2 separate regions of the Homo sapiens genome follow, and region 1 is linked to region 2. The links come from fine-mapping of genetic effects on plasma protein levels. A gene starts in region 2. The other region holds a variant in brackets. All regions are shown on one strand. Distances are from middle to middle.

Region 1 (4,368 bases), 14 kb after region 2:
GCAAGGGTTGCAGGGAGCTGAGATCGCACCACTGCACTCCACCCTGGGGGACAGAGCGAAACTCTGTCTCAAAAAAAAAAAAAAAGAAAAAGAAATCAGAGCCCTTTACTCCTCTGGCGGTTTCGACTGCCTGCCGGAACTGGCCTCCATTCTCTCTGGATTCCTCCTCTCCCACCTGCTGTTCTCTTGTCCCCGAAGTGAGTCCCAGAACAGCCAAGGCTCTGGTAAGGGTGTAGGACGGAGCAGAAGGGAGCTGGAAAAACACGATAGTAAAAGAAAGTCAGGAGAAAATCCGGGTGGAAAGACGAGAGGGAGAGCTAGAGCTCAGAGTTCCAGAAAGGAAAGTGTGCCGTCACCGCCTCATCATAAAAGCCATCCACAACTTCCTTCCATGAGGCTCACTGAGAACAGCGGCACCAAGACACAACCAGGAACTGCCCCAGGAGTGACTTCACGAGCAGTTTATTCATTGCAATTGTTCTCATGGTGATAAAGAAAAAGTACCAGGAGATGGATCCTGGACTGGAAGGTCAGAGAAGCCTCCCTGAAAAGGTGGCATCTAAGCTGAGGCTGTGAATGCTGAGCAGAAGTTAGCCCGTGGCCAGGGGAGGTCAGAGGCTGGAGTAAGAGGTGGGCGCTGCAGGAACCGAGTAAGGAAGGACTCGTGCATTACAGGAAGGGGGAGAAATGCTCTGCCCATGGGATGTGGTGAAGGGTGAGCGGAGATGGAGTAAAGAACTGCATCTGGCCGGGTGCAGCGGCTCAGGCCTATAATCCCAGCACTTTGGGAGGCTGAGGCGGGCGGATCATGAGGTCAGGAGTTCAAGACCAGCCTGGCCTACACGGTGAAACCCCGACTCTACTAAAAATACAAAACTTAGCTGGACGTGGTGGCGCATGCCTGTAATCCCAGCTACTCGGGAGGCTGAGGCAGGAGAATTGCTTGAACTGAGGAGGTGGAGTTTGCAGTGAGCTGAGATTGCACTGCTGTACTCCAGCCTGGGCGACAGAGCGAGACTCCGTCTCAAAAAAAAAAAAAAAAAAAAAAAAAAAGGCTTTCAACAGCATTACAGAGTCTGTGTTCTTTTGATTGTTAACCTCTTTTTTTTTCCTACCTTTAGTTTTCTCCAGGGTGTTTTCACGCAATTGGAAGATTATTTGGCCTCTTTCTGAACAATGTCCAGCTGGGTCCCAGCCTTACAGAGAAGCTATGTTTGGAATTAGCAAACACAAGCATTCGGAATCTGTCTCTGAGTAACAGCCAGCTGTCCACCACCAGCAATACAACTTTCTTGGGACTAAAGTGGACAAATCTCACTATGCTCGATCTTTCCTACAACAACTTAAATGTGGTTGGTAACGATTCCTTTGCTTGGCTTCCACAACTAGAATATTTCTTCCTAGAGTATAATAATATACAGCATTTGTTTTCTCACTCTTTGCACGGGCTTTTCAATGTGAGGTACCTGAATTTGAAACGGTCTTTTACTAAACAAAGTATTTCCCTTGCCTCACTCCCCAAGATTGATGATTTTTCTTTTCAGTGGCTAAAATGTTTGGAGCACCTTAACATGGAAGATAATGATATTCCAGGCATAAAAAGCAATATGTTCACAGGATTGATAAACCTGAAATACTTAAGTCTATCCAACTCCTTTACAAGTTTGCGAACTTTGACAAATGAAACATTTGTATCACTTGCTCATTCTCCCTTACACATA[C/T]TCAACCTAACCAAGAATAAAATCTCAAAAATAGAGAGTGATGCTTTCTCTTGGTTGGGCCACCTAGAAGTACTTGACCTGGGCCTTAATGAAATTGGGCAAGAACTCACAGGCCAGGAATGGAGAGGTCTAGAAAATATTTTCGAAATCTATCTTTCCTACAACAAGTACCTGCAGCTGACTAGGAACTCCTTTGCCTTGGTCCCAAGCCTTCAACGACTGATGCTCCGAAGGGTGGCCCTTAAAAATGTGGATAGCTCTCCTTCACCATTCCAGCCTCTTCGTAACTTGACCATTCTGGATCTAAGCAACAACAACATAGCCAACATAAATGATGACATGTTGGAGGGTCTTGAGAAACTAGAAATTCTCGATTTGCAGCATAACAACTTAGCACGGCTCTGGAAACACGCAAACCCTGGTGGTCCCATTTATTTCCTAAAGGGTCTGTCTCACCTCCACATCCTTAACTTGGAGTCCAACGGCTTTGACGAGATCCCAGTTGAGGTCTTCAAGGATTTATTTGAACTAAAGATCATCGATTTAGGATTGAATAATTTAAACACACTTCCAGCATCTGTCTTTAATAATCAGGTGTCTCTAAAGTCATTGAACCTTCAGAAGAATCTCATAACATCCGTTGAGAAGAAGGTTTTCGGGCCAGCTTTCAGGAACCTGACTGAGTTAGATATGCGCTTTAATCCCTTTGATTGCACGTGTGAAAGTATTGCCTGGTTTGTTAATTGGATTAACGAGACCCATACCAACATCCCTGAGCTGTCAAGCCACTACCTTTGCAACACTCCACCTCACTATCATGGGTTCCCAGTGAGACTTTTTGATACATCATCTTGCAAAGACAGTGCCCCCTTTGAACTCTTTTTCATGATCAATACCAGTATCCTGTTGATTTTTATCTTTATTGTACTTCTCATCCACTTTGAGGGCTGGAGGATATCTTTTTATTGGAATGTTTCAGTACATCGAGTTCTTGGTTTCAAAGAAATAGACAGACAGACAGAACAGTTTGAATATGCAGCATATATAATTCATGCCTATAAAGATAAGGATTGGGTCTGGGAACATTTCTCTTCAATGGAAAAGGAAGACCAATCTCTCAAATTTTGTCTGGAAGAAAGGGACTTTGAGGCGGGTGTTTTTGAACTAGAAGCAATTGTTAACAGCATCAAAAGAAGCAGAAAAATTATTTTTGTTATAACACACCATCTATTAAAAGACCCATTATGCAAAAGGTAGGTAAACATTGTGAAATTTTAAGTGTGTACTTGCTTTTCAATTAAATTTCTTTTTTTTTTTTTGAGATGGAGTCCTGCTCTGTTGCCCAGGCTGGAGTGCAGTGGTGTGATCTCAGCTTACTGCAGCCTCCACCTCCTGGGTTCAAGTAATTCTCCTGCCTCAGCCTCTCAAGTAGTTGGGATTACAGGCACGCGCCACCAAGCCTGGCTAATTTTTGTATTTTTATTAGAGATGGGGTTTCACCGTGTTGGCCAGGCTTATCTTGAACTCCTGGCCTCAGGTGAGCTTCAATTAAACTTTTAAATATTACCAATATTACTCACAACTCAAAGAATTTTTAAAATAAAATTAAGAAAAAAAAAACCTGAGTTTCAGTAACAGTTTAAACTCTACAGAGTATTTTTAAATAGTATTGCTTCTGGCTGTTAAAAACCGTATATTAATTCTTCAATACATTTTTTTACTTAGATTCAAGGTACATCATGCAGTTCAACAAGCTATTGAACAAAATCTGGATTCCATTATATTGGTTTTCCTTGAGGAGATTCCAGATTATAAACTGAACCATGCACTCTGTTTGCGAAGAGGAATGTTTAAATCTCACTGCATCTTGAACTGGCCAGTTCAGAAAGAACGGATAGGTGCCTTTCGTCATAAATTGCAAGTAGCACTTGGATCCAAAAACTCTGTACATTAAATTTATTTAAATATTCAATTAGCAAAGGAGAAACTTTCTCAATTTAAAAAGTTCTATGGCAAATTTAAGTTTTCCATAAAGGTGTTATAATTTGTTTATTCATATTTGTAAATGATTATATTCTATCACAATTACATCTCTTCTAGGAAAATGTGTCTCCTTATTTCAGGCCTATTTTTGACAATTGACTTAATTTTACCCAAAATAAAACATATAAGCACGTAAGAACATTGTCTACTGATTAATATACAATCAGCCACTGAGCCTATGACAGCTTAAGGAGTTTGAAAACATTCCTCATTTTAAGAAAAGTTAGAGGTATATGAGGGTTTGTGATGATCTTTTTGTATTTTGGATGCACTTAGAATGAAAGATAATTGTTTCAATGGGTATAATGCTATTTCCTTTGTAAAAGAGTAAAATATATACCCATATTTTTAACAAGTTTAATTACAGTATTTTTTCAATGGAAAAACTTTGTATTTTAGTAAGTACTTGTCTCAGTGTTGACTTTGTTAAATGTTAAATATTTTTTAATATACATACCCAAGGGCAGAAAACATTTGCAATTCATTTTTATTAGTTAATGAGATGATTATTTGAATGAATATTGACTTGTATTTTCCTGAGATTATGAGTTTCTGCTGTGGGAGGGTGGAAACAATTCTCTTACTAAAAGTATTGTAGGCAGGC
Region 2 (4,395 bases):
CCTCAAATGGAAGAAGGGAACTTAGAGTTTTTAGAATGTGAATAAATTTAAGGGACTTTGGCTTCTAGAATTCTGTAGATCTCTGTTTTGCTGGGAATATACAGCTTCCCATTATTCTGAGATTGGCTGATCTGTAATGCTGTGAAATATCAGTGTTTACTAAATTTGTTATTTTACATTTATGGGCATACATTTTTTTTTAATTCTCTCTCTCTCTTTTTTTGAGACAGGGTCTCCCTCTGTTACCCAGGCTGGAGTGCAGTGGCGCACTCATGACTCAATGCAAACTTGAATTTGCCTGGACTCAAGTGATCCTCCCACCTCAGCCTCCCAAGTAGCTGAGACTATAGGCATGCACCAACATGCCCAGCTAATTTTTGTAATTTTTGTAGAGATGGAGTTTTACCACGTTGCCCAGGTTGGTCTTGAACTCCTAGGCTCAAGCAATCTCCTAAAGTGTTGGGATTACAGGCATGATCCACTGCTCCCAGCCTTAATTCTTTTAAAAAGGGGAAAAATGAGGTTTTTCACTATTGCTCCAATCACCATCATAGCTAAATAAGTTAATGCACATAGTTAAGAAATGTACAGTAGAGAGAAAACAATCTGTGTTGTATTTAGAAACTAGCAAGAATTAAGGACTAATAATATCTGAATATGAACTGGTATTAAGCCCAAACTACTGCATCAGGAGACCATCAATAAAATTTATTTATCGAGAGCCATTCATTAGTCAACCAAAGTCGTGGGAAATTTAATCTGTATAAGGAGTCATAAGGCATAAGGGATAGGTATGAAGGATTGTTGAGATGATGTGTTTTATTTCGCTAATAATGCATATGACACCATTCCAATTTTTTTAAATTTAAAACAACAATCATTTATTTGCTTGCTTCTCAAGCCTGGGTAATCGTGTTTGGCAATGAGACCTTGTTGCATGCTTGCTAATATCCCACTGGTCAAAGCTAGTCAAATGGCCAAGCCTAGAGTCAGCGTGGGAGAAGGCCACACAAGGGTTTGAATTCTGAGGACGAGTCTCTTTCATTGAAGGCCAAAGAAACAGTCTACCTCAGAGGGTTGCTGGGGAGCTATAATGCAAAGAATAAACCTCACCCTGCCTTCAAGGCGCTCACAGAGAAGAAATCTTTTGAATATTAGTGAAGTTTTCCTGGACATCCCAATGGATAGATGTGAGGGACAGTCACGTACTCAGGACATCTGTTTGCTTATGGTGTTATGTTACAGATGTCACAAATGAAAATCAGAGACATGTAGCCCTGAGCCCAGTAACTATAAAGCGGTCTAGCTGAAGCTGGAGCCCACAAGAGGGCACTTTGCACCATGATGCACGCTTGTTTCTTGCCATCAGCTCTGCAATGAGTTCAAGCTAATGCCATGTCCCAGCCGTCCAGTTGTTTTATGACTTGTGTGATTGAAGCATATGGTGGCTTGTGGCATGTTCTTAGGCAAACCACTCACCTCCCTAGGTTTCGTTTTCCTAATTTCTCAAACAAGGGAGTTAGATTAGGTGGTCTATAGTTCCTTCCAATTGTGATATTTCACTATATAACAATATAGTTATAATAGATCATAGCACATCTGTAATGAAAAAAAGTGAGTTCATTTCTTAACAAGTACATTTACTTAACTAGTTGGAGTCATTAAAGCAAATTAAGAACGAAATTCTTAGTTAATCTGAACTTTTCTGGGCATACTGATCTGTTCCCTAACGCGTCTGACCGTGGAAAAGTGGATCAGCAGGAGTGGGACTGGCTCTCAGCTTTGCCATGTTTGGCTCTTTCTCTGCTGTGAAACTCAGTTTCTTCCTGGATCAAGAGGTTAATTTCTGCCGGTGTTATTTTACAGTGTTGCAAAGAGATAAAAGCCAGACGAAAGAAGGGAAAGTACTTCAGCTTTGATTAGGGATTTTTTTTTCTGTCCCTGTGACCATACACTACTCAATTCTGACAGCTTCGCATGAGTCTAGCAGAAAATTGAGGGATTCACTGTTATTCCTTAACTTGCAGAGGTCCAGACCCGCCCACATCAAATGGTGAGGTCCCCACTTTCAACTTTAGCTGTTGCTAAATCTGTGACCCTTTCAATGAAATCCAAGGATCTCAGCTTAAAAAAAGTTAAAATAAAATAAAAACTAGGTGTTTTTCAGAGGCGGTTTGAAACGCCTCTCTGAGGTTGTCAGAGATTGTTTTTGTTTTCTCCCTTTGCCCTTCTTGGAATGCACCAAACATAAAAGCATTTTTTTTCAAGCTTTACTTTCACTTTCGAGAGTGCCGTCTATTTGCCACACACTTCCCTGATGAAATGTCTGGATTTGGACTAAAGAAAAAAGGAAAGGCTAGCAGTCATCCAAGTAAGTGAAGGTGTTCATTTCACGTTCTTACTGGGCAGGGTCTCTCTTGCTGAGTAGAGTTTGCTAGCAGAATGCATGTGGTTTTAGCCTTCTTTGGTCTTTCTTTGATCTGGTGCTTGAAATCTAGTCAGAATTATTCAGGAAGGAAAGTGGAAGAAAAGGGATATGATATGGGCATGGGAGAAGGGTATAACTCAGAACACAAGTAATAGCACCAATATCTAGTTAATGTGATAATGTATTTATGCAGTATTTAATTTTTTTCTCTGTAGCATTCTGTACCTGGAAAAAACACATTAGGGAAGCTATGGAAATCATTTTGCAACAGTCTTTTTAGCAAATCACATCTTTGCCTTAAAGAAACAAAACTCCAAGAGGTTAAAAGAGCGTATCCCCTTTTGTTAGTTTTATTGGCTGGAGGGGAGACAGGAGCTGGCATTGTATGACAATGTCTTAGATAGGAGAGAACATTCAGGTATGCCTAGGAGTAAGTAAATGGCTTTCTTTCACCTAATGAAGGATAATGGAAGAAGTGGAGAAGTGGAAAGTTGTTAAGGTGTATGGGAAGATCAGAAACTGGTATCGGCAATTGTGGGGTACTCGGGTAAAAATGGAGTTGGCTTCAGCAAGTTGATTCCCAGGTTTACAGATGATTACGTGCTGGTATGTGTCTTCATATGGGCGTGCCTGTGTATGAACCTACTACAAAGGTTGCAAAGTTTACAAATCAAACTATGGATAGTGGTTAACTCCAGGTAGTCTGCCTCCAGACCCCATGTCCTAACCATCAGGCAATATTGTCTCTCACTTGGACAAAGAATGTGAATTCCATGTGCCCTCACAAAATATTTCCAAAATTCTAAGGCTGAGTGAGTCTCTTTTTAATTTTTTTTCATTTTCTTTATTTCTGCTAGATCTCATTCAACAGCAACGTTTTCTTCACTCTCATTTCATCCTTTAACTGCATTTTTGCTTGTTTTACTGAAGCATGTCCTAGAATAACCTTTTCATACAGATCGTATGGCTATAAACTTACTGAATTTTTGCATATCTCAAAATACTTATACCTTTTTATTTAGTTATTCAGATGGATGTGAAATTTCCCTATCTTATTTTATTTTATTTTATTTCATTTTATTTCATTTATCGATTTAGAGACAAGGTCTCGCTGTGTTGCCCAGGCTGAAGTACAGTGGCATGATCGTGGCTCACTGCAGCCTTGACCTCCCTGGCTCAAGCAATTCTCACACCTCAGTGTCACGAGTAGCTGGGACCACAGGTGTGAACCACTATGGCCAGCTAATTTAAAAAAAAATTTTGGTGGAGATGAGGTTTCCCTGTGTTGCCCAGGCTGGTCCCAAACTCCTAGGCTCAAGGGATCCTCCAGCCTCAGCTTCCTAAAGTGATGGGATTACAGGCATGAGCCACAGGTAATTTTCTTGGCCTGGTCAAAGGTAATTTTCTTGTTTTTTAGAGGTAAGGTCTTGCTCTGTTGCCCAGGCTGGAGTGCAGTGGTGTGATCATGATTCATTGCAGCCTTAACCTCCTGGGCTCAAGCGATCCTCCTGCCTCAGCCTCCCAAGTAGCTGGAACTACAGGCTTGTGCCACCACACTTGGCTACTTTCTAAAATATTTTTGTAGATACGGGGTCTCACTATGTTGCCCAGGCTGGTGTTGAGCTCCTGATCTCCTTCTGCCTACACCTTCTAAAGTGCCGGGATTGTGGGGATGAGCCACTATGCTTTGCCTGGATATGAAATTTTAAATTCAAAATAATTTTCTCTAAATGTTTGGAAAGCTTATCTCTATTGTTTTCCAGTGGTTCATGTTACTGATGAAAAGTTTTTTATTAATCAAGATCTCTTTTCTTTGGAAATGAAGGTTTTAGGATTTTTGTGTGCATGGTTGCAATTCTGAAATTTCATAGGAGTCTCTCCAAGTTTGTTCCTCTTTCACTCCTCCTGCCTAGCATTTGGTGAGTTTTGCCCACTGATGAAATGTCTTCAGATGGGGCAAGTCCTTA

Which allele goes with the higher level. Alleles are on the strand shown, and positions count from the first base shown. The strength of an association depends on the size of the effect and on how common the allele is.
As copies of C replace T in region 1, the plasma level of the protein whose gene starts at base 2,279 in region 2 goes up (strong association).

The links. PIP is the chance, under the fine-mapping model, that this variant and not a neighbour inherited with it causes the effect. Protein levels are from antibody-based Olink assays in UK Biobank. Linkage for the fine-mapping came from a reference panel and not from the study's own genotypes, which makes the PIPs less certain.
Region 1: its variant is fine-mapped to the plasma level of the TLR3 protein (UK Biobank, PIP above 0.99). The variant lies in the coding sequence of TLR3. If it changes the protein, the assay may bind it differently, which can mimic a change of level.

What each region holds. Positions count from the first base shown.
Region 1 is chr4:186,081,199-186,085,566 of GRCh38, forward strand. TLR3 (toll like receptor 3) reads left to right here. Exons shown (of 5, transcript NM_003265.3): 4 at 1,122-2,974; 5 at 3,447-4,368. The coding sequence ends at 3,675. Among named protein-coding and RNA genes, the nearest start is that of TLR3, 14 kb to the left of the region's middle. The variant C/T (reference allele first, on the strand shown) is at 1,722.
Region 2 is chr4:186,066,878-186,071,272 of GRCh38, forward strand. TLR3 (toll like receptor 3) reads left to right here and starts at 2,279. Exons shown (of 5, transcript NM_003265.3): 1 at 2,279-2,371.